Linked DNA regions of Homo sapiens. The protein of the gene in region 3 interacts with the protein of the main gene of each other region in a pairwise test. Each region holds a gene or a part of one and is shown on either strand. Other genes may lie near its edges.

The links. Proteins that work in one complex are often made in the same cells at the same time.
Region 1: the proteins of ATXN7L2 (region 3) and CTIF interact in a two-hybrid assay, tested with the Homo sapiens proteins (one large-scale study listed by BioGRID).
Region 2: the proteins of ATXN7L2 (region 3) and PRDM6 interact in a two-hybrid assay, tested with the Homo sapiens proteins (one large-scale study listed by BioGRID).
Region 4: the proteins of ATXN7L2 (region 3) and SSC4D interact in a two-hybrid assay, tested with the Homo sapiens proteins (one large-scale study listed by BioGRID).

Annotation. Positions count from the first base shown.
Region 1 is NC_000018.10:48,855,887-48,861,039, forward strand, and holds part of CTIF (CBP80/20-dependent translation initiation factor), read left to right. Parts: intron 1-1,701; coding exon 1,702-1,755; intron 1,756-3,457; coding exon 3,458-3,673; 3' UTR 3,674-5,153. UniProt on the Homo sapiens protein: Specifically required for the pioneer round of mRNA translation mediated by the cap-binding complex (CBC), that takes place during or right after mRNA export via the nuclear pore complex (NPC).
Region 2 is NC_000005.10:123,189,097-123,193,169, reverse strand, and holds part of PRDM6 (putative histone-lysine N-methyltransferase PRDM6), read right to left. Parts: 3' UTR 1-4,073. UniProt on the Homo sapiens protein: Putative histone methyltransferase that acts as a transcriptional repressor of smooth muscle gene expression.
Region 3 is NC_000001.11:109,485,095-109,490,069, reverse strand, and holds part of ATXN7L2 (ataxin-7-like protein 2), read right to left. Parts: intron 4,739-4,975; exon of another isoform or gene 4,014-4,738; coding exon 3,948-4,013; intron 3,565-3,947; coding exon 3,460-3,564; intron 3,064-3,459; coding exon 2,853-3,063; intron 2,553-2,852; coding exon 2,266-2,552; intron 1,688-2,265; coding exon 1,605-1,687; intron 1,224-1,604; coding exon 970-1,223; intron 788-969; coding exon of another isoform or gene 730-787; exon of another isoform or gene 141-729; coding exon 1-140.
Region 4 is NC_000007.14:76,402,532-76,407,841, reverse strand, and holds part of SSC4D (scavenger receptor cysteine-rich domain-containing group B protein precursor), read left to right. Parts: intron 1-3,336; 5' UTR 3,337-3,402; coding exon 3,403-3,535; intron 3,536-4,680; coding exon of another isoform or gene 4,681-4,767; intron 4,768-5,310.

The DNA.
Region 1 (5,153 bases), on a different chromosome or scaffold from region 3:
TTTGAGGCAAAGATGATAAAGCCATAGTGTCATCCAGAAAGTGAAGCCCAATGAGTGTGGGAAGGTTCGTGCAGACGAGCTAGATGTGGGGTCCCTGAGAGTCGTGATGATCGACATGGCAGGAGGGGACGGCATTGAGAAGAGCAGAAGCTTGACAATAACTATTTGGGGAGGAAAATATTGGAGGAATGCCTGTTTTAGGAACTGAGAGAAAAAGCATTAGCCAGCAAAGAGGGCTGTGGTAGGAGTGGTCCGTGGGGCTTGGTGAGCTTCTCGGAAGCCACGCCCAGAGAGGGTTTCAGGCACTCGGTGTCAGCACACCAGTGCTGCTGGGGCTTCAAGAGAGAGTGAATCAGAAAACTGGGACATAGCAAGCATTGGTGAGGCTGTAGAGAAACCAGAACCCTCATGCATTGCTAGTGAGAGTGTAAAATGATGGAGCCATTGTGGGAAAACAGTCTTGCAGCTACTCAAAAAGCTGAACATAGAGTTACCACATGACCCAGAAATTCTAATCCTATGTAATATCCAGGAGAATTGAAAACATGCATCCAGGAAAAGCCTGGTACACGAAGGTTCATAGCAGCACTATTCCTAATAGCTAAAAGGTGGAAACAACGCAAAAGTCCATTAACAGATGAATGGATAAACAAAATGTGACATATCCTTACAATGGAATATTAGTCAGCCACAGAAAGGAATGAGATACTGGTATATGCTACAACATGAATGAACCCTGAAAACATTAAGTGAAAGAAGTCAATCACAAAAGGCCACATATTGTGTGATTCTATTTCTATAAAATGTCCAGCACGGGCAACTCCATAGAGACATAGAATCGGGGGGAGTTGCCAGAGGCTGGAGTGAGGAGGAACAGGGAATGGCTGCTAGTGGGTATGGGTTTGTATGGGGAGTGATGAAAATGTTCAGAACTTAAATAGTGGTGATGGTTGCACAATTCTGGGGATATCCTAAAAAGCACTGCATTATATACTTTAAAATGGTGGATTTTGTGTTATGTGAATGGTATCTCAATTTAAAAGAGACAGAGAGATTGAGAGAATGAGCCAGGCAAGTCGGGGGAAGCATGGACTGTAGCACGGCAGGACTGAGCGCTGAGCAGCCCAGCCATGGCCCTAGTTAGGAAACAGTTCCAGCCCCTGAGTAAGTCCACAGGTTTGTGGGTTTGAAAGTCTACAGCACTGGGCCAGTGGAGAAGAGGGCTTTGACTCCTGGACTTCCTCCTGTGGCCAGGGCCCAGGGGTGCCTGAGTCAATGGCTGAACCTCCTCACCCATAGAGGAGTTACCAATTATACGTCTCTAAGCTAATTTCATTTCCCTGAGGACTTCTGCTGACCAGTTGTTAACACTGGATGATCCCAGCGCACTCACTGCTGCAGGCTTTCTCTTCAGTGGCCTCTTGAATCACGGTGTTCAGACCTGGCCCAGGGGCTCCACATCGCACCATCACACTGACCTCCAGCTGCTCTAACCCTGTCGGAGAAATCACGGCCACCCGGCGCAACTGACTTTCTGCTCTCTGACTTTTGTGGGCTCTCACTCTAGCCTGAACCTTGGAGATGTTTGTTACAGGCCGCATCAGGGCTGGGGCTGCAGGTCGGCGGGGGCTGCAGGGAGCTACAGGGCCCAGTAGCCGGCATGTCTCCTTCAGTGGTGCTCTCTGCCCCTCTCTTCCACAGCTCTTGCAATCTCAGGATGTGAAGGAAGATGCTGTCCTTTGCTGCTCTATGGAGGTAAGCTTTGGGGCTTCGACATCCCCAACCTCAAAGCCGGTGCATCTCTCATGCCTTAACAGTTCTAGGGGCACGAGGGTTGTTGGAGGCATTTACAAGTCCAGGGGAAGGTAGGTGGATGGCTTCAGGAGTGGGCATGGACTTCTGCATCCAGAATTATCCACCCCAAGCCAGAGTGAACACTGATGGTGAGAGCAGCTCACCCCTGACTGAAGGGAGAGAGAAGTGATTCCCAGTGGCATTGCCTACTTCCCTGTCCCCCAAAGACCCCCTGCGCCCCAGCTCAGGCATGCCACACAAATGACTTAAGAAGTTCCTGATTACCTCTGCCCTCAAATATTTCCCTTTGCTTTGCTAATGCTTGGCAATGCAGTGCTGGCACAGCCCACCCGAAAGCACACCTCTTGGGAGGTGCCACTCCTGTCCCTAAGCTGTGGCCCCTGCTAATGGAGACTCTTCCTCTGGGCTCTCCCTTTAGCGCCTGGCTTTGGCCCAGTCCCTGGGCAGATCTCTGCCCTCTGCAGATGGTCCAGAGTCACTCAGAGTGGGATGCAGGCAGGAGAGGGGCTTCCAGACGAGGACCTGGGCCTGGCAGCTGTCATAAGCATACTCAGGTGGCTTCCGCCTGGCTGCAAAGGCCTCACTGAGGAGCTCAGAGGCCAGAAGCACTGGGAGCCAGATGGCAGTCTTGGGTCTGTGGGACTCAGTTTGTTTGTTGGCCTCCAGCTGGGCACCCTACAGGGGGCTTGGGATTAGGGGGGAATTAGGGAGAAGGAGAAAGCCTGGTCCTTGCCCTCAGGCAGCTTCCAGTCTGGTTAGGAATAGCTCTCAGAGAGTAGATAGAATAAGTGTAAGTACAGAGACATCCCTGAAGAGTCAGGGGAGAGAGGTCAGGAAGGGCTCAGGGGTTCAAGGGAGGCTTTGTGAAGAAGGCAGAGACTAGAAAAATGAATGGGACAAGGCTGGGGACCGAGACGGGGACTGAGATTCTATAGAGAGGGCCTGGGGGGCACTGGCCAGGGGTGTGCTGGTCCAGGAATAGGGGCTCCTTCCCAGTGGGCTTTTCAAGATTATCTAGGGCTCTCCTGACGGCCTCTGGCTGGCCTTCTTCCCCAGTTTGTATTTCTCTCCCCCACTTCCTGTCACAAGCATGAGCAGAGGTCACTTCTGGGGGCTGGGAGATGGGATCAGGATCAGGAGAAAAGGAGAGCGAGAGAAACAGGAGGCATCACCCCTGCTCTCAAGTTCCAATGGACACATGTAATAATGACTAAGCTCATTGCCAGAGAGACGCCCCAGCAAGTGAAAATGACCACAGGGCCCCCTGATCACCAAGGGGCACAGATCATGGAGCCATTTGAGGGTGCGGATGTAGTCAGGGAAGGCTTCCTGGAAGAGGGAGGCTCTTGGGTAAAAGGGACAAGAGGCATGTTCCTGGTGACAGCTCTTTCAGCCCTGGGCAGTAGGCAATATTCGGATCCCTCTGGATCCTGCTGGCAGATTGGTTGGTAAATGTGAGCTCTCACTCTTGGCTACTCCACCTTCCACTCTCCCTGTCCTCATTCCAGCTGTGGCACAGGGGTCTGGGCCTGTGTGTCCTTAAGACAACCCAGCTATTTCCTATCCCTGCCCACCTAATCAGGGTGGCCAGTGGGCCACTGTGGGACCCGAGGCCATCCTAACCCCACATCTCTGTCTGCAGCTGCAGAGTACAGGCCGGCTGCTGGAGGAACAGCTGCCTGAGATGATGACAGAGCTCCTGGCCAGCGCACGGGACAAGATGCTGTGCCCCTCGGAGTCCATGCTGACCCGGTCGCTGCTCCTAGAGGTCATCGAGCTCCACGCTAACAGCTGGAACCCTCTGACGCCCCCCATCACGCAGTACTACAACAGAACCATCCAGAAACTGACAGCCTGACAGCCAGGGGGCCTGGCAGGCGGCCCACGGGCAGCTGGGGCCCTGGTGCACAGGGCCAGATGGACAGGCGGGAGGACAGGGGTGGCCCTGGCGGGAGAAAGAAATGGGGAGGAGGGCAGGCAGAGTCGGTGGCCAGTCTGGAGCCAGACGGGGAAGGGAGCAAATCCCTGAGAGGAGTGCCCCCGCACAAGCCCCCCAGCCCGAGCATGCAAGCTCACACCAATAAGGGAAGCATGTTTCTTTTTCCTGGTGGCCCTGGCCCTCCCCTTCCTCACTCCCGCCTCTCCCCTCCCCATCAGACCCATCCCCCACGGAGCTTTGTGTGAGGGATCTCATCGCTGTGACTCCTCGGAGACCTTGGCAGCCTCGCACGCCGGGGCACCGCTTGGGTCAGAAAGGACCTCGGAAGGCTGAAAAAGTGGGTCGGAGACGGGCTCGCATTGTTCCCGCATGCTGTCAGCCGCAGTCGCCAACTGGCAGCAGGCGACGTGTAGCAGATGTCCGGGAGGACAAAGGCAGGCACGGTCCCCACCAGCCGCCCGTAATTGACGGCCTTTGTCAGCCATGGCAGAGCTGACGCTCCACCTCCCACCTCCAAGTCCTCCTCACTGCAGCCCCCACAGCCTCAGGCCTAGGGGGTCAGGCGCAGCGGGGGAGATGGAGTTTGCAGTTCCACTTGCACTCTTTTGTTTATTGTGTTTTATTTTTCAAAAGTCGGTTGCTTTGAAGTCTCTTTGGCCAATGAAAATGCCCGTGATGTGATCACACAGTCAGCACTGTTGAGGACCCCCGGATTAGTGGGAGATCAAACCCAGCTCCCCTCTAGAAGAAGGATTCGAGCCACAGACAGCTTGCCAGTAGCCAATTAGGGTAATTGGAAACTTCTGCCCCGGCGGGGGGTCCCCGCTGGAATCCTGTGTTCCTCGCCACTGGCTTCCAGCGCCTCTGTTTTCTCAAAGGGCTGATACTGTCACCACTGGGACCAAGTTAAACCTGGTCCTGGCCCCAGGGGCCTTGTGGCAAACAGGGCACAGAACGAGACTGGCAAATTAAAACCAAAATTCTAGATGGTGTCTTGCGCTCCACACGCAGGTCTTACTGGGGAAAAGGATGGGAGTGGGGGCTCCCCAGGACTCGATTTTAGCTAATGCGCTGTGTCACTGCCCCAGCTCGGACGTAGAAGCCCAGCCCTCCGTGAGCTCTTGGGAAAGGGGTGAATTCACTGGGTCATGGAAGGGACAGTCAGGTGACCAGCGGGGTCGCCAGATGAAGCTTCCCAGCCGGGAAACAAGACGGGGTTTCTTGGCAGGCCCTGGTCCTGGGGAGCAGGCCCTGTTGTTGGCTGGAGAGGAAGGTGTGGGGTGGAACAGGTGTCCACATAGCTCCATCTCTGGGGGCTGGAGCACACACTTTGATGAGCCCCCCCGGAAATGATGTCAGAGCCTAGCCGCTTCCTTATTTGCTCTTTTATTGAGGCCGG
Region 2 (4,073 bases), on a different chromosome or scaffold from region 3:
GGAAAATATATTTATCATTTCAACAAACAAATGTGCCCATTAGAATCAGAATCTGGAGGAAAGTAGTATACATTGTGGTTTCAATAAACCACGGTAAAGAGTTGTAATAAAGCCAGTTCATGATGAAATTTTGTACACTTACTTTTTGAACAAACCTCACAGTTTCATCTAGATTGTGCCCCAGAACTTGAACTGGTTCCTTGAGTACCTCATGCATGTAACTACACTATCTGTGCCTTTGACAAACCAAACCTATAATGACTCCAGTCTTTCTGCTGCACTGCTTTAAACCAACAGGCTAACAACATAAGCCCATATTCTTAATGCACACAACTGCGTAATGACTCCATTGATGCCTGGAAAGTAACTCACTTAGCATTCAGTCAGAACAAAGAAAGAAAACGAGATTTCACTTAGCCCCGTTGAGGATGTGTTTTTACCTGTCGATAGTGTTCGAACCTTATTCTCTTCTGGCCACCCTCCAACACAACCTGCCCTTCCTGCCTGTTGCCATTTGTCCTAATGTATATCACACTTGAGAGGGTTATTTTTTTTTCTTTCAATGTGGAATTTTAGATTCCTGCTTAGAAAAACAAAAACAATGCCTGACAGCAATGGAATAGTTGAAATTCTGTCCAGCAATGAGATTTGGGCATGACAAAATCAGCATCTATAATGATACGTGTTTTAATAGCACTTCAGTATTGTTTCCACAAACACATTTTATAAATAAATTATACTTGTGTTTATTAATTTTTAAAAGCTCTTGTTCTCAAAAAAAAGCTTTACATAGAGAAGTATTTTCCTCTTTTAACAATTGCCTGTTTATGGCTTTGAAGGAGGAAAAAAACTAAAGAAGCTACAAAGCTAAAACTGTTAAGCATATATGAGAAGGGGATAATGATAGTATCTTTGTTATAGAGTTACTAAGGATTAAAAGAGATAATCCACATTAAGCATTAGAACAAGGCATGGCAGTAATTGCACAATATAATTTATAATCATCATCATTCCCATCAACCTCTGTGGGAATAAGCGCAGAATGTCCTTATTTTTCCATTAAAATTTCCTCCATAGGTTTTCTAAGTGCAGTGGTGGCATATTCAGTCTATAGGAAAGACAATTCAAATGTTTCATGACTTTGACCTGTTTCCGACATATTTTTTGTTATCGTTTTACATATTGATCTGATGAAACATCTGGCATTTATTATTTAAAGGAAGAAACTAAATAAATATTTTAAATGTCAAACACAGCCATGGACTACAGGTTAAACATCTGTGGCAAGGTTTCCACAGATAAAGCAATATTCTTTTCAGTTTGGCTCTGTCTGGCCAGTTGTACCTGACAGCTGATCTCTGGGTTTGTAGAATGCAATCTTGGGGAGGGCTGAAATAGGTGCCTTCCTAGTAACCTGCGTTGTTGTTTTGTGGTAGTTCAGATAAATGCTAGTGAGGGGAGAACTTTAAACTTTGGGTTGATGATCACCCAGGTATCTAGTTAGCGCATAAAATTTTCCAAAGCTCTTCACCTTAAAAGGATCCTGACAAGTGAATAACATTTCTGGAACTTACAGTTATCATTTAAAGAAGCATATATCTCAGTATCTTTTAAAATCTGATGTCAGGATCTAGTAAAGACTCTGGGAAATAAAAATTAAATTCATGTCAAGGAAGAAACAGATAAACATTTCAGGAAATGTGATTATTTATTTCTTATTCCTGGCCTGGTTTCTGTAGGCATGCATAGCCTTAATATGAGAGCAATGAATTTGCTCCTAAACGCAGGCTGCTGGGTACACTCAGAGGGACCCGTTAACCCTGCTGTTCTGGAAATGCCCTCTTTGTGAGACGTGCCATGATTCCCATTTTAAACAACTCAATAGATACTTGCATTTTAAATTTTAAATTAGTGCAAAACAAATAATGTTACTTCTGCACACCGGGGAAAGGGACTACACTGCCAACGCTTACCACTAATGAGGCAACTCTGACCCATTCAGGGTCGCAGATCTCCTTCCCTGAGCAACTCCAGCCTTGTACCCAACTTGTTGCCTTATCATTGAAAGGGGGGGTCATAAAAACCCAAGACCCAGGCCCTAATCCTGGTCTCTTGATACTGCTGCTAACAACCAATAGCCCAGTGAGTTAAGCAAAGACAACCAAGTTGTGCATCTTAACTTGTTTTGCAATATGCTATTTTCTGGTCCCCAGATGAATTTACCTCTCTCAGATTTTCCCAGTTGGAACAAAATCTTTAACTTCACTGAGACAATGGTCTAAAGGACTAAAATACCCATTTTACTAGCAGCCACTTAGGAGGAGAATATTATTTTATCATGAATAGTCACTTAAATAATGCTGCTTATGGTGAACACATAAAATGGGGTCTTTATATAAAATAAGAGTTCAATAAATACTTGTTGAATAAATGAATGAAACAATGAACATCTGATTTAAAAATTGATGAACTGCTAAATGTTCGTATAAATCTTTGCATACCTGAACCAGAATGAAATTTTTACAAGGTAAAATTCAATTATGAGCCCTATGAGGACACAATGATGTCATGATCTTTTCCTGTTATACATAGTTTCCCAAGAAGGCTACATTTAAATGAACACAATAAAAAATGTACCAACTGAATCAAATTATATAAATTATATGAGATTAAGTTTCATAGCTTTAATTAGCCATACAATAACTTTTTAGAAGTATATCTCCTCCAAAAAAGTCATTTTTAAAGATAAAAACAAAACAAAAATGAAAAGCTTATCTATGAAAAATGTATGCACATATCCTGGGGAAAATACAACTTTGCCTTGGGATATTGAGATTTTTCTAGAAATGCAAAGGTCTGCAGCTCCATCTCTCATCCTATTGCACCCTGACTTTTCCCTGGCATTACCTTTCGTCTTAGACTCTGCTAAATAAAGGAACATACGCTAGGATGAAAAGTCTTATTCTGAAAAAATTATTATTATTTTATCCCCATTGAAAGAAAAGAGTAAAGAAGGATTGCTTCAAGAGCCAAACCCTGATTCAGCTCTGACAGACTACCTTTCTTATCTTAAATATCCTTTCCCCAGTGATTCAGAGCATTTACTCTCTTTATAGCACTACTAATTAGGAAGTTACTAATAAGAAAAACTGGCAAATTTTACGACTGCAATTTCTACCACCCATTTGCTGTATCCCAGGGGACTGTGTGTCCACTTTAAATAGAAAAGGCTAAAGCAATTGTTAGGAAGTTTCAAAGAGAAACCTCCTCCCCAGCATACACTTAGATTAAAATCATTTTGGACCCAAATGATCTCAGTACCTGCTTCAGGGTTCCAAGTCAATGTCCAGGTGTAAGCCTGTCTTTGTGGACAGACAGCCTAGGCTGGTCTGCTAGAAGCTGGCAATAGGACAGCAATGTAAAAATTGTGAATGTGCCCACATGCCTGGAAAATTAGAGTATCCAATTTTCTATTTGTTAGGCAGAAAATATTTTCTGACCAAATTTGGTGGAATATATATGCCAACAATTTCTCTTAATAATAGAGGATAAAAATAGATTTAAATGGAGCAGAACACTAGAAGAGTGTTTTGGAGTACAGGTTACTGCCACATTCAGTGGAAGTTTGGGATCAGCTAGCAAAGCTATCAGGGTGGCAGAGAGATCATTGTTAAGGAAAACCTTCCCATGCCAGACATCAAGGGAGGAGGGAAGCCTTCTCATTCTCCCACGTTCTGAAGCTCATGAGAACTGAGTAGTACATGGTGTTCCACTGTGAAATGTGGCAAATGGCTGAGCTGATTTTTCAAATGAAAAAAAAAATTAGAAATATACAGGTGATTCCCTACTGTTGTTTTCAAAAAGTTTGAGTAAATCTTTCAACCTTAACAAATGGAACAGCTTACTCATCTGTGAAGCTGATCTGTCCTTTTCTTGCAGGTTTCAGGTTAATATGGCTACATTTCATTCACACTTCCCAGTGACGCACATTGTTTGCAAACGTATCCATCACTTAGGGCAGGGAATTGTAAAATCAGAACACATTCCTAACTACCAGAGAGAATAGTTTCAAT
Region 3 (4,975 bases):
CAGATGTCCCCTCCTCCTCACTCTCTTCGCTGGAGGCCTGGGTCCCACCCCGGGGCATGGGGAAGGGGAACAGGCCTGGGTCCCCATCACCACCACAGGGGCCTTCATCATCCAATTCACTCTCGGAGGAGGCCCGGGACCTGGAAGGGCCAAAAGGGATGCCAGGGGAATGTGACTGTTGTGGGGTCAGAGTAGGGGCATCCTTGAACCTGCCGAGCTCAAAGAGCAGGGCACCAGGGCAGACACCCTGCAGGGCAATCAGAAGAGGACAGAGGGAAGGGAAGGACAGGAGGGAACGACACAGCTCACAGAGTAAGAGACAGAGAGACTGCTCCCAAGGGATTCTCTCCCCAGCCCCTTCACCTCCCAGCCCCTTCCTCCTCAGGGGATAATCTGCTGCAGATCCGCCTCCTCCAGAAAATCTTCACAGTTAAAACTGTACCCAGCTCTGGTCAGCCCAGTCAACTCGCTCAACCCCCTTCTTGCATCACATATTCCTGTGAGCCTGTCTGTGAGCTGAGCCTGTGTTTCGTGTCTGCCCCTTGTGTGACAGGCAGAGATGCATGTGTGTCTCCTTCAGCAAGTCAGGCTCTCCCTGGGGTCCGGCATAGCCTCTGCACGCGAAGGGGCCAGTGAGTGAATACACATAGGGCTGCCTTGCCCAGGAGTGTGACCCTTTCAGCTCCCCAGTGACAAGTTTCGGTCTGTTGGAGGCAGCTGGGAAAATGTTCATATCCTGAGTGTTGGATCTGGCACACTGCCGAGAGGCTGGGGTGCTGTGGTATGCCTGGTTGGAAACAGGGGAGTCTCCTGCTTCCACACCACTGTCAGGAGCCCCAGGAATACCCCCACACTCAGGGCTGAGGGAGTGCCTCTTCCAGGACACTCCCTGAGCCTGTTTCCAGGGGCCCCTGATGGCTTAGGGGCCAAGTACCCCCAGGTGAGGTAGGGGTTGGATTCTAGACGTACCTGGGCAGTGCACAGTATGGGTAGGTCTGCTTGGCACGAACAGAGAAGGTGCTGCTGGGAGCAGCCACCGCTGCTACAACCTGGACTGAGGAGGGGAGCTCCTGGGAGGGGCGCTCGAGAACTTGCTCCTTGCGCCCTGGGCTCTTCTCCTTGGGAGACTCCCCTTTGCGGGAGTTGGCCTTCAGCTCTGCCACCAGCACGTCAAAGTCCTTGGCCCGGCCCTGGACTTCCCGGCGCTGGTGTACTGAGTGGATCTAGAATACAGCAGAGTGGAGAGCTGGGGAGTAGGTATGAACTGAGAAGGGGTGAGGGACGGCAGGGTGCTTTGGCCCGGGCAAGTTGGGGGGCAGGGAGAGAGGTGGGCATATTTGCAGCTGTGTTCATGTGTCTTTGTTTCATTCCCCCATGGGGCCAAAACCCTCCTTTGGGATGGGGGAATCTGGAAACTCCCTCCTTCCCACTGTTCCCACCTTCTGCCCAGGAGGGGCATACCCATCTCCCCTTCCCTTGGGTGGGCCTAACTGCCCTCCCTTAAGCTGGACCTTCAGTAACATCGACATTCCTCTCTTTGCCCAGGGAAGGAGTGGGCAAGCCCTGTGCTGTCCTCCCTCACCGTGCAGTGGGAAGGGGGTTACCTTGCAGGTCAACAGGCGGGTACAGATCTTTTTGGTCTCTGGATTTATTACCCCACACTGCCTGTTGAGGTCGCACTCCTTCCCTGTGGGGAAAGCACTTCCAATGAACCTCAAGACCATTTCCAGGAGTTTACAGGAGGATTTGGCCGCTTCCTGCCAAGGGCCTGAGAACTGGTACTAAGGCAGAAGAGACTCCAGCCCTCAGCCTGGGGCTGTACCTTCCAGATAAACTTCTGGGCATCAACATCTCCTTGCTGGGTGTGAGAACCATCCCTATCCCAATTTCAGGTGCGCCTTTTGGGACTTCAAGCCCAAAGCAGGGCAACACACATCAAGAAACAAAAGCAGCCATGGGCATCTGGGAGGCCAGAGAAGCCAGCTGTGAGATGTGTCTGGCTGGCGCCCTGGATCTAGGTGAGAAAAGAGTGAGAAAGAACTTCACCTCCTGGGCATGGGCTCCCTCAGCCTTGATCAGGAGACACAGGATGGAGAGAAGCTTCCCAGGAAGCAAGCAGGTCAAGAGGTGACGGGGCTCCTATACCCTACAACCTGTGATGGCCAGGCCCATAAACCTGACCTCCTCCTCATCCAGCCCAAGGACAAAGCAGCCCAAAGGAGTCCCCACTCTACATTCTGGACCCCCAAGACCACAACTACTCACGAGCCATCTTCCGGTGGGTTTTAGGGGGCAGCCTGGTCCCACTGGGCTCCTTTTCAGGAGGGCTGCCTTCAGCCCAGTGACTGGACCCCTCACTGGGGATGATCTCGATGTTCTCTCTGCCAGGAGGTTCTTTAGAAGGGGGAGCCATGGGAGGTTTTCCAGGGGAGTCCTTGGTGAGGCCCCCTGGCTGGCTGAGAAAAGCAGAGGGTGGGGCCACCCTGATTCCATGTCCATCAGGCTTCGGGAGACTGGACATCTTCTCCAGATTCACCACAGGCACGAAAAGGCTACACACAGAGAGAGGGGGTTGGCTGAGGGAGGGGAGGGGAGGCGAGGCCTGGGGCCTGGACTCTAGCCCAGAGCCATCTCTTTCCCAGCCCTGGAATTTGGGTGGGCTCCAGCAGGGGTGTGAAACACGGGAAGAGGAGACCCCATCTTCCCTGGAATATATGGAAGGAAGCTGCAGACAGGACGGCTGCCTCCTGCTGTGAGGAGTATGCCTTGACCCAGGGCTGTCTGTATTGATGTCAGCCCATCCATGGGTCAGGGTCAGGGCCAGTCTTAGAAAGTTTCCAGCCTCTCCTTACCAGAGGTTGTCCTTCTGGGTCTTCTCAGGAGGCTGGTGGCCACGGCTCCGGGACCCCTGGCCCTTCTCCCTGGAGGAGGTTTTCGTGGAACCTGGGGCCCTACAAGCTGGGCCCTGCCCATTCACTACATGGCATTTCTGAGAGCTGGCAGGGGCTGGAGGTGGGGGTGGGGCCCGGCCATAAAGCTTGCTGAGGGGCCCATGTCTTCTTTCTGTCACCAGGAGGTGGAAAGAATAATCAAGGTGAGTGGTATCACCACTTCCTTCCCCAACCTAACCATGTCCATAGACTCACATGAGAGAATCTGAGTTTCCATAAATTAGATTGTAAACATGCCTCCTTCCCATTTGAATCTGAGCCTTTAGGACTCAAAATTCAAGACCCAGCTTCCTGAATGTCTTAACTCCTCCCGTAATTCCACTGGATGCTAGAATTTTGTTCAAACAATAACCCGACTCCCCACAATGCTCTGAAGCCACCCCCACAACCTTCCTATCCTCAACACCACCCTCCATTACCCTACGAGACCTCCCAACTGACCCTGTCCTCAGAGTTCCATGCTCCACCTTCCCCTGTCCCTTTATCTCCTCCCTAGGGCTCCCCTCACCGCAGTGCTTCTGGAAAGCTTGAGGCTTCACCACTTGGCTGCAGTGGTTACACACAACCAAGTAGAAGTCATCATGGGCAGGGCAGTGCCCGAAGATGGACATGTCTGCAATGACAGAAGCCCATGTCACTGGGGCTGAAGATCCCAGGGTTTCTCTGGAAGATCGGAGAGCACTCCCACCCCACACTCAGAAGGCACTTCACCTCCCCGCTGATATAACAAGCTCCATGCTGAATGCTTCCAGCTTCCAGAGTTCGATCTAAGCAGTCCCAAAGGGTATACGCTTTCAGGTGAGTGGGCAATCACCTATGATTATGATCTCCAACGACAGGTCACAGGAGCCAGAACAACCGGCCGACTCGGACCTATCAAAATGAGGGTCCCCAGACAGCTGCTTCAAGCAGCCACCTCCTTCTGTAGTGTGGTGGAAAAGTGGAGCGTGGTCCTGTCTGCCCTGGGTCCCAGCCCTAATGTGTGTCGACTCCCACCTTCTTTAATGAGGGTCATGGCATCCAACTTCTTCGTGTTTTTGCTACTCTCCTCCAGCTCAGCCCCTAGAGGAGAAACACAGCTCAGAAGGGTCAGGGCCAGTTTTAGAGAGTCTCCAGCCTCTCCTTACCAGAGACTGTTCTTCCCAGAAGACAACCCAGAGGTTGTCCCCTTTCCAGAAGCCCCAAGCAGGGCCTGCAGCTCAACAGTATGAAGCCCACACTCCGTGACAAGCTCCTGGTGCTAGGACCACTTGGGGAACCTTTCAGTGGGTCCATTCTCAAATGCCCATCTTCCTTCACCTGCTGCATCTGGACTAAGATGGCCCCACTAAGAAGAATCCATCCACCTTTCTTATGGGACCCTTCACTTCAAGGTGCAGTTTAGGGTTCCACTGCTAACTAGTTGGGTGATTGTGGGTAAGTATCATCTCTTTTCTGGGCCTGCTTCCCCATTTAAAGGGGAAACCGTCCTTAACCAATGTTTCTATAAGTCCCTGAGTCTCTTCTTGAGATTTCTCGATGGGTCCTTTCTGCTACTATGTGGCATCCCAAATAGATACTCTCCCAGGTCCCCACCCCCATGAACTCAATTTTGCTCCACCTGGGTTACCATAGCATTGTCAAAGTTACACCCAGCTTCTCAGGTCCTGCACTGATAGGATGGTCACAGAGCAGAGAAACTGCTGTCTTTGGTCCTTGAGCATCTTCAAAGTCTCCTTGGTCAGCTATGCAAGTCCCTCCCCTTCTTAGAGGGCCTTTGGGCAGGGGTTGCCCTTGTACCTCAGTTTCTGGGTTAATGACAAAAACATCTTAGCTGTGCAAAGCAGCTTTTTCCCCATCCCCCTACCTCTCTCCTCCCCCCTCCCTCCTCTACGCCCCCTCCCTGTCCCTTGGGAAAAAAAAAATCAATTCTGAGTCACCAAACCCGTCTGACTCCATTTCCGGTTCTCAATGCACCCAGACCCTGACAATGGCCCCATCTTTGCCCACCCAGCATGGGGCAGCCCCAGGGTGGCCTGGGCTCC
Region 4 (5,310 bases), on a different chromosome or scaffold from region 3:
TGCAAGAAAAGGGGACGTGAGAGAGGCTTCTGGGACACTGGTTACATGGTGTGAATGCTCTTTGAGCTCTAAGCTCATGGTTTATGCACTTTTTTTTTCTTTTTAGTTAGAGACAGGGTCTTACTCTGTCATTCAAGTTGGAGTGCAGTGGCATGATCATGGCTAACTGCAGCCTTGAACTCCTGGGCTCAAGTGATCCTCCTGCCTTAGCCTCCCAAAGCACTGGGATTACAGGCATGCACCACCATGCCCAGCTAATTGTTTTTTAGTTTTGTAGAGATGGGGTCTCACTATGTTGCCTAGGCCGGTCTTGAAATCCTGGGCTCAAGAGATACTCCCTCAATTAGCTGGGCGTGGTGATACCCGCCTGTAATCCCAGCTACTCAGGAGGCTGGGGCAGGAGAATCGCTTGAACCTGGAAGGTGGAGGGTGCAGTGAGCCGAGATTGTGCCACTGCACTCCAGCCTGGGCGACAAGGCGAGACTCTGTCTCAAAAAAAAAAAGAGATCCTCCCGCCTCAGCTTCCCAAAGTGCTCACAGGAGTAAGCTGCCACACTTGGCCTAGAGTTAATTTAAATCAGGGCCAAGCCTGGTGGCTCACACCTGTAATTCCAGCACTTTGGGAGACCGAGGCGGGTGTATCACTTGAGGTCAGGAGTTCCAGACCAGCCAGGTCAACATGGGGAAACCCCGTCTCTACTGAACATACAAAAATTAGCCGAGTATGGTGGCACATGCCAGTAATCCCAGCTACTCGGGAGGCTGAGGCAGAAGAATTCCTTGAACCCAGGAGGTGGAGGTTGCAGTGAGCTGAGATCAGGCCACTGCACTACAGCCTGGGTGACAGAGGGAGGCTCTGTCTCCAAAAATAAATAAATAAATAAATAATTTAAATCAGAAGAAATGTGCCAATAAAATGAGAAAAATATTAAGTAAATCATAGTTACCATGACACACAAATACATAAAAAAAGTGAAGGAAGGTCTGAGAGACTAAACGCTGCTTACAATGCTCGGCCCATTTTGGGTGGAAAGGCCTTGAAGATTTTTTTTTTTTTCTGATTTAGGATTGGGGTATTAAAAACAAAAAAAGTGCAAGACAGGAGGATCACTTGAGGCCAGGAGTTTGAGACCAGCCTGAGTAACACAGCACGAGAGCCCATCTCTACTAAAAAGAAAAAAAGAAAAATAATTAGCTGGGTGTGGTGGTGCAAGCCTGCAGTTCCAGCTCCTCAGGAGGCTGAGACGGGAGGATCCTTTGAGCCCAGGATAGGGAGGTTGCAGTGAGCCATGATCATGCCACTGCACTGCCGCCTGGGTGACAGAGTGAGACCCTATCTGTAAAAAATAAAAAATAAAAAAATTCTTTAAAGTAAAAAAAATTAATTAATTAATTTGAAAGGGAGACTATATTGTTCTGATAAACGGAAAACCAGAGTCCTTTTTAGAAGGCATTGTACAATTTAAAAAGAATTATTGAAAATAAAACAATACATGAGTATCTATATCCTCCCAAATTAAGTGGGTTGCTGTCCGTGGCACCAATACTATATTTCGAATGCACAGACCAGGTGCGGTGGCTCATGCCTGTAATCCCAGCACTTTGGGAGGCTGAGGCGCGTGGATCACCTGAGGTCAGGAGTTCAAGACCAGCCTGGCCAACATGGCGAAAACCCATCTCTACAAAAAATGAGCCGGGCGTGGTGGCGGGTGCCTGTAATCCCAGCTACTCAGGAGGCTGAGGCAGGAGAATCGCTTGAACCCGGGAGGCAGAGTTTGCAGTGAACGGAGATCGCACCATTGCATTCCAGCCTGGACGACAGAGCGAGACTCCATCAAAGAAAGAAAAGAAAAGAAAAGAAAGGAAAGGAAAGGAAGAAGGAAGGAAGGAAGGAAAGAAAGGGAGGGAGGCAAGAAAGGGAGAGAGGGAGGGAAGGAGGGACAGAAGGAAGGAAGGAAAGAAAGAAAACAAAATCAAATGTGCAGCCCTGGAGGATAATCTCTGAGTCCTTGGGCTGGTCATGGTTTGGGCCGAGCCAACCCTGCCAACCCCCTCTCCCACCATTTGCCCTCTTCACACATCCTCAGCTACAGCCATGACCGACTCCTCATGCGTTTCCATCCAAGCAGCATCTTTTTCACCTCCCAGCTTTTGCCTCTGCCGTCGTCTCCACTCAGAATGCCAAAGGCAAGTGGAAATGTCATTTTCCCCTGAAGCTGACCCCTCTAGGAAGTAAACACTTGGAACTTTTTTCTTTTTCCTGCAGCCTTGGTGCAAGTGATCCTCCTACCTCAGCCTCCCCATTAGCTGCAGCTACAGACATGTGTCACCATACCCGACTCATAAAAAAGAAATGTTCTGGGCTGGCACGGTGGCTCACGCCTGTAATTTCAGCACTTTGGGAGGCCAAGGTGGGCGGATCCCTTAAGGTCAGGAGTTCGAAACCAGCCTGGCCAATATGGTGAAACACCCTCTCTACCAAAAAAAAAAAAAAAAAAAAAAGAAAGAAAGAAAGAAAAAAATACATATATATATATATATATATATATATATATATATATATATATATAATTAGCTGGGTGTGGTGATGCACGCCTGTAATCCCAGCTACCCAGGAGGCTGAGGCAGGAGAATCACTTGAACCTGAGAGATGGAGGTTGCAGTGAGCCGAGATTGTGCCATTACACTCCAGCCTGGCCACAGAGTGAGACTCTGTCTGAAAAAAAAAATCTACTAATTTTTGTATTTTTAAAATTTAATTTTTTTCTTTTTGAGGCAGAGTCTTGCTCTGTCGCCCAGGCTGGAGTGCAGTGGCATGATCTCAGCTCACTGCAACTTCTACCTCCCGGGTTCAAGAGATTCTCCTGCCTCAGCTTCCCGAGTAGCTGGGATTACAGGTGCACTCCACCACACCTGGCAAATGTTTGTATTTTTGGTACAGATGGGGTTTCACCATGTTGGCCAGGCTAGTCTCGAACTCCTGACCTCAAGTGATCTGCCTCCCTCAGGCTCCCAAAGTGCTGGGATTACAGGCATGAGCCACCGCAGCCGGCCTAATTTTTGCATTTTTTGGTAACAGACAGGTTTTCGCCATGTTACCCAGGCTATATCTCGATCTCCTGGGTTCAAGCGATCCACCCGCCTCAGCCTCCCAAAGTGCTGGGATTACAGGCATAAGCCACCACACCCGGCCTCATTTTTAAAAACTTTTTGTAGAGATGGGGGTCTCACTATGTTGCCCAGGCTGATCTCAAACCCCTGGGTGCAAGCAATCCTCCCACCTCGGCCTCCCAAAGTGCTGGGAGGCCCAGCAACATTTGGGATCTTTAATTTCAGATGTTCCAACTGTGACTTCTCCCTGGCGCCTTGATGGGAGCATCTGAAACACCCTTCACCATCTAGATGCACAAGGAAGCAGAGATGCTAATTGGTCCCCAGCTGGATGAGAAGCGCTGGGGGTGGAGGTTGGGAGATGGGAGTGCTGCCCCTCCCTTCCTCCCCCAAGCCCTGTCTTTCCTTCTCCTCCTGCCACTGGGTGAGTCCTCCCCTGTTAGCCCTTGCCACTTCCTCTTTCTGAATCTCAGTTGTCCCAGCTGTAACTTTATAGTAGGAGGAGGGTTGTGAATGAGCTCGTTCCTGTTGTTCTTTCCAATGCTGACCTTTGCCCAGAGTTGACAAAAGAGCTAAGAGTCTGAGTTTGGGGAATGAAGGGCTCAGTACTGGAGGTGACAGGTAAACGCACCCATGGAATGGGCAGTTAGGGGACACTGGGCACAGGGAAGGACAGAAAGAGGGTGTGCTCACCAATGGCTGTTGGAAAGACAGCTGGTAAAAGAGATGAAATCAAATGACCTAGGGACTATCCAAACATAAGAAGAAGGCCGGGCTCGGTGACTCACACCTGCAATCCCAGTACTTTGGGAGGCCAAGGCGGAAAGATCACCTGAGATCAGGAGTTTGAGACCAGCCTGGCCAACATGGTGAAACCCGCGTCCCTACTAAAAATACAAAAATTAACCAGGCTTGGCAGCACGCACCTGTAATCCCAGCTACTCAGGAGGCTGAGGCAGGAGAATCACTTGAACCTGGGAAGTGGAGGTTGCAGTGAGCCAAGATCACGCCACTGCACTCCAGCCTGGGTGACAGAGCGAGACTCTGTCTCAAAAAGAAATAAAGATAAATAAATAAATAAGAATAAGTTGAATCAGCCAGGCACGGTGGCTGTCGCCTGTAATCCCAGCACTTTGGGAGGCTGAGGAGGGCGGATCATGAGGTCAGGAGTTCAGGACCAGCCCGGCCAACATGGTGAAACCCCGTCTCTACTAAAAATACAAAAAATAGCTGGGCATGGTGGCGGGCGCCTGTAATCCCAGCTACTCAGGAGGCTGAGGCAGGAGAATTGTTTGAACCCAGGAGGTGGAGGTTGCAGTGAGCTGAGATTGCGCCATTGCACTCCAGCCTGAGTGACAGGGCGAGACTCTGTCTCAAAAAAAAGAAGTGGAGTCTCAGTTTCTTCATCAGTAAAATGCGTACACAAGTACAGGCTGCAGGGGGTGGTTATAAGGAAAGTGTCAGAACTGTCATACTCGGACCACAAGTGAGGAATTATTTTCCGGCTTTCCATTTTGCCTGGTAGGCAAATTTCACTTCCCTGTTTCCTCTCCCACCTCCACTCTCAAGCATCGTGCTCAGAACTGCATGATGAAGAAGAGTGTGGCTGTCTGGGTAGTCTCTCAGCTCTACCCTTGATTTGCTACGTGGCCCTGAGTAAGTTGTCTAATCTCACTAACCCTGAAGTTGCCCTGTCTGTAAAATCCTGCCTAACTTATAAATTATCCTAATGATTAACTGAGTTCGCCTAAAGAAACCAATGAAGGCCGGGTGCAGTGGCTCACGCCTGTAATCCCAGCACTCTGGGAGGCTGAGGCGGATGGATCACCTGAGGTCGGGAGTTTGAGACCAGCCTGACCAACATGCAGAAACCCCATCTCTACTAAAAATACAAAATTAGCCAGGCATGGTGGTATGCCTGTAATCCCAGCTACTTGGGAGGTTGAGGCAGGAGAATCACTTGAACCCAGGAGGGGGAGGTTGCGGTGAGCAAAGATGGCACCATTGCACTCTAGCCTGGGCAACAAGAGCGAAATTCCGTCTCAAGAAAAACAAAAAAGAAAAAAAGAAAGCAATGAGGACATACATGATGGCTGAAGCAGAAAGACTCAAGGCCAGGCAAGGTGGCTCACACCTGTAATTCTAGCACTTTGGGAGGCTGAGACGGGAGGATCACTTGAGGCCAAGAGTTCGAGACCA